2 separate regions of the Homo sapiens genome follow, and region 2 is linked to region 1. The links come from fine-mapping of genetic effects on gene expression. Tissue or cell type: whole blood. Region 1 holds a variant in brackets; the other region holds the start of a gene. All regions are shown on one strand. Distances are between the middles of the regions.

Evidence for each region. PIP is the estimated chance that this variant, and not a neighbour inherited with it, causes the effect.
Region 2: CCS starts here. The variant in region 1 is fine-mapped to the expression of CCS in whole blood (TOPMed, PIP above 0.99).

What each region holds. Positions count from the first base shown.
Region 1 is chr11:66,637,199-66,639,698 of GRCh38, reverse strand. All of the region lies in intron 1 of RBM14-RBM4 (RBM14-RBM4 readthrough), which reads right to left. RBM4 (RNA binding motif protein 4) reads right to left here and starts at 996. Exons shown (of 4, transcript NM_002896.4): 1 at 947-996. RefSeq lists enhancers at 120-831, 698-1,067, 832-1,545. The variant C/T (reference allele first, on the strand shown) is at 1,542.
Region 2 is chr11:66,592,007-66,594,506 of GRCh38, reverse strand. CCS (copper chaperone for superoxide dismutase) reads right to left here and starts at 1,322. Exons shown (of 8, transcript NM_005125.2): 1 at 1,207-1,322; 2 at 793-865. The coding sequence starts at 1,245. CCDC87 (coiled-coil domain containing 87) reads left to right here and starts at 1,444. Exons shown (of 1, transcript NM_018219.3): 1 at 1,444-2,500. The coding sequence starts at 1,492. RefSeq lists enhancers at 1,458-1,547, 1,578-1,687, 1,858-1,917, 1,480-2,068, 2,069-2,500.

The sequences.
Region 1 (2,500 bases):
TGGGAGAGAAAAACAAGACATCTGACAAAAGACCTCAGGCCCACATCCGTTCACAAAAGACAACGACTTTCACTCTAATGTATATTTCCAGTTTTCTCTCTCACACGCCTGCACACACACCTCCACACAATAATCAAATGGAAGTGGGAGTGAACTAAGGCCTGCTATAGTAGCCGCCATGAACCTGTAAGAATAAGAAGACGTCTGCAATAGGGAGGTCCTTAGTAGACAAAGGGTTTGGTAAGAACCGATACCTTCCAACAGAAATGGGCATGAAAGACAGCATATGAAGAAATGGGGGTACTAGGCTTTTCTATCCACTAGGAGGACAACAGAAAACAAAAGTCTACTAGGCTTGCTGACTGCCTGCCTGAAATTATCAACAGGCTTTTCCTCACGTAGGAACCAAAGCAGCCATCATTTCCGGGAAAATGGGCCTTGTAATAGCTACATTTGAGTTTCCTTTGGAAGTAATGAACGCGCGACTCGGATCAGACAGCGAGGAGTGGGAGATAAAGGAAATACTGGAGTGGTGAACGCCTCTCTCGGGGCACCGTCCTAGCTCCTGCCGAACACTGAAATGCGCGGCCGCGGAAAAGAGCTTCAGATTCATTAACCAGACGATGTCTCACGGCCCGAGAAATTCCCGAAACGAGAATGTAACTGTCAGATATAAGGGAAAGGGGGTTATCCCAGTGGAAATCTCGAGGCTCCAAGAGCAGCCATGTCGGGCGCGGGACAGGGTGGGCGAAAAAAAGCAAGGTATTCTCAGGGGGCGGTGGGGGAAGGGCTGCTCCCGGCTTACCGCGCAATGCCGAGGACCGAGGTCGGCTCTCAGTGACGGGTGTGGAGACTGCGGACCTACCAGGACACCCCCGAAGCCCAAGGGAGTGAGAGAAGATTTAACACAGTACAAGAAAGGCAGTGGAAAGGCTCGGAGTCTCACCCGCACAGAAACCAGCAGGGCCTCCTCCTCGCGGCGCGGACGCTTCTGACAAAACGCTAAAATGGCGGCGGCCGCAGCAGTGCTCTGAGTAGAAGGGGGAGGTGAGCCTACAACCGGATTGGCCACTCAAGAAAGTAAAAGGCCGGCGTTCCCTCAGATCCTCTTCCTGATTGGTTACCACGGACGCCAATTACCTAAGAGGCCGGCAAGAGGTGGAAACGTCTGTAACCTCGGAGCTTTTATGCGAAAGCCAATGGGCACCAACCTCGCGAAGCCGAACTCGCTGATTGGGCAAGAGATCAGCGTGAGGGCGGACCTACAAACGTGGGCTTCGCCGGCGGGGTGCGGCCCGCCATTAGGCGGAGCGAGCTAGAGCCCCGGGGTAGCAGTCTTTAGCTTCATGGCGCCAACTTCGTTAAGCTTCCACATTTCGCCACCTCCACGTGCACAGCCAGACAGTATTCCGCGCTCCATTTTGCCGTTCACTCTAGGTGTCTCCCTCTAACCTCCCAAGCACCACCCCCCCTCGCGGCCAGGACGCTGTGGAAATAGCTTATGCAGGCACATGCCAGGGAAGAAAAACAACGAAGACCCC[C/T]CCCAACCCACCACCCACCACTTCAGGAAACCAACCTTCTCCTTGGGCCAGCAGTCCACACTGTAGCCTTGAGAGTCCCGGAGCTCCCCCAAAATCAAACCTCTCACAGGTGGTGAAAGGACCTCTGTAATGGCCTTCCAGAAGTAGGCCCGGCAGGAGGCTGCACTGTCCAGGAGACGCTGAGGACAAGTTCCCTCTGGGAACCAGCCTCCCAGGGTCCGCGATGAAGAAACCTTTCTGAGACCATGGAGATTTAAAGTATACCCCGACCCCACCCTGAGAAAAAACTGGAGCAGCAAAGGTTTTTTTGTTTTATTTTATTGGGCGCCATCAGCCAGAGCTGTTTTAATCCCCTAGAACCGACTTTAGAGGACAGAGCTTAGTCACAACCAGCTGTAAACAAAATACAAAGTAACATTCTCCAGAGGGTCCAGCTGCTGCCTCGTTTTCTCTCATCCTTAGGCTGCTTCATATTCATTAAGCAAGCAACTTTAGTCAAGACCCTTTGCGAAGCAGCTTTTGAAAAGGGTTAAAAGGTGGAGTGCAGGGACTGGATGGAAGAACTTATAACACGAACAAAACAGGCTAAAAGCAGTGCAGAGTTTATGAGGAAAGGGATCATCAGGAGTGAAGATGACACAAGTACCACACACCACCATCCAAAGCAGCTTCTTCACCACCACCCCCGCCCCAAAAAGAGAACGGTTTCATAAAGAGAAAGGTGAAGTCAGAGTTTGGGGGGGAAAAAAAAGAGTGGGTTTTAAAACCCAACACGAGGGCCAGGTGCGGTGGCCCACGCCTGTAATCCCAGCACTTTGGGAGGCCGAGGCGGGCGGATCACCTGAGGTCAGGAGTTCAAGACCAGCCTAGCCAACATGGTGAACGCCATCTCCACTAAAAATACAAAAATTAGCCCAATGTGGTGGCAGGCCCCTGTAATCCCAGCTACTCAGGAGGCT
Region 2 (2,500 bases), 45 kb after region 1:
ACTGAGCCTGGCCTGGATAAACACTTAACAGAATCAAAGGAAGCCAGTTCCCAGAGCCATGCTGGTGGCTCTACCTTTCCAGATCTTTCTCATTGTGCCAGGTCACCTCCAGACCAGCTGGCCTTTTATTTATTATTATTATTTTTTTGAGACGGAGTCTCACTCTGTTGCCCAGGCTAGAGTGCAGTGGCGCGATCTCGGCTAACTGCAAGCTCCGCCTCCCGGGTTCACGCCATTCTCCTGCCTCTGCCTCCCAAGTAGCTGGGACTACAGGCGCCCACCACCACGCCCGGCTAATTTTTTGTATTTTTTAGTAGAGACAGGATTTAACTGTGTTAGCCAGGATGGTCTCGATCTCCTGACCTGGTGATCCACCCACCTCGGCCTCCCAAAGTGCTGGGATTACAGGCATGAGCCACCACACCCAGTGGTATAGAAAGCTACCCAGGATGGTATAGGGCCTGAGCTGCTGTTTGCTTTGTCAAGATTATGTTGTTTCCCAAGCAAAAACTGCCTGTTTTCCCAGGAACTCCCTCAGCCTAGCTCCTCAGTCTCTGGGGCACCTGAGGTTCAGGACAACAAGACAGGCAGTTAGAATCTGTCAGGGCAAGCTGGACAGCTGTACTCTAGGCTCTGCCTCCAGGTCTGTGTGTAACTCTGAGAACATGCCTTTCACTCTCTGGGGTTCACTTTCTGCATCTGTAAAATGGGAGTAGGGTTCGCCTAATAGATTCGCCTGGTCCCTCCCAGAGGCTTCTGGACTGTCTGCAGAAAAGTTTACCCTGTTCTTACCTGCCACCCCTTGCAGGGATTTGCGCACCGCGTCCACACAGCTCTGACAGGTCATCTGCACCGCGAACTCCAACTGCAAGGGCGGCAGGGACCAACCGATGATCGCTGGGGAAGTGCCTTGGTATGACTTTGTTTCACCACCTACCCTATGACCACCGCAAGGGTCTGGGAACAAGCCCCACTTAACCCCTCTTCAAGCACCTTCTTCATGATCTCTCATGACCATTCCAGGACCATGGGAGTCACCCCCCAACACTCACGCAGGGCCCCTGCTACCCTCGCACCCTAGTTTCATCCCATGGCCCCAGGCCCCAACCCAAGTGCCCACTCCTTCTCCTCTTCCCAAGGTAACGATCATCCCAGGGGCCGAGGCTCTCTGCCCGGCGAGGCTCCACACGAAGCCTCGACCCTCACCGTGCAGAGGGTCCCCTGGTTCCCCGAATCCGAAGCCATTCTGGACCCAGTCACCACCCCGAGACGCAGAACTCCTCCGGCGCAGGAGCACCAACCAGCGCGGCGTCGCGGGGACTGAGCCTCTAAAGCCACCCTTAACTCCTCCTCCTAGTGCGTGCGCACGCAAGGCCCTGCTTCGTCAGCCACCGGGTGGCGGCCGCGCAGGCGCACTCGGGCCGTCGGGCTCCTGGTTGCCTTAGTAACCCCTCGGCTTTCTGTTCCTGGACGGTGGCGGCCGCCGGCTCTATGATGGAGCCCCCGAAGCCCGAGCCTGAGCTCCAGCGGTTTTACCACCGGCTGCTGCGTCCGCTGTCGCTCTTCCCCACTAGGACGACGTCCCCAGAGCCTCAGAAGCGCCCCCCGCAGGAGGGCCGGATTCTGCAGTCCTTCCCTCTGGCGAAGCTGACGGTGGCGTCGCTGTGCAGCCAGGTGGCCAAGCTGCTGGCCGGCAGCGGGATAGCAGCGGGAGTGCCTCCTGAGGCCCGACTACGTCTCATCAAGGTCATCCTGGACGAGCTGAAGTGCAGCTGGCGGGAGCCGCCCGCCGAACTTAGTCTGAGCCACAAAAACAACCAGAAGCTGCGGAAGCGGCTCGAGGCCTACGTGCTGCTGAGCAGCGAGCAGCTCTTCTTGCGCTACCTGCACCTGCTGGTGACCATGTCGACTCCCAGGGGGGTCTTCACTGAATCAGCCACCCTCACCCGGTTGGCCGCCAGCCTCGCCAGGGACTGCACACTCTTCCTTACTAGTCCCAACGTCTACCGTGGCCTGCTTGCCGACTTCCAGGCCCTGCTGAGGGCAGAGCAGGCCTCTGGGGATGTGGACAAGCTGCACCCTGTCTGCCCCGCTGGGACGTTCAAGCTGTGCCCTATCCCCTGGCCTCACAGCACTGGCTTCGCCCAAGTGCAGTGCTCTAACCTCAACCTGAACTACCTCATCCAACTCAGCCGTCCACCAGAGTTTCTCAATGAGCCAGGAAGGATGGATCCAGTGAAGGAATTGAAGTCCATCCCTCGGTTGAAGAGGAAAAAGCCTTTCCACTGGCTGCCCTCCATAGGAAAGAAGAGAGAAATCGACATCAGTTCCTCACAGATGGTGTCGCTGCCCAGCTATCCTGTGGCCCCCACCAGCAGGGCTTCCCCCTCGCCTTTCTGCCCTGAGCTCCGGAGAGGCCAATCCATGCCCTCCCTGCGTGAGGGCTGGAGGCTGGCAGATGAGTTGGGCCTTCCTCCACTCCCATCTCGCCCCTTAACCC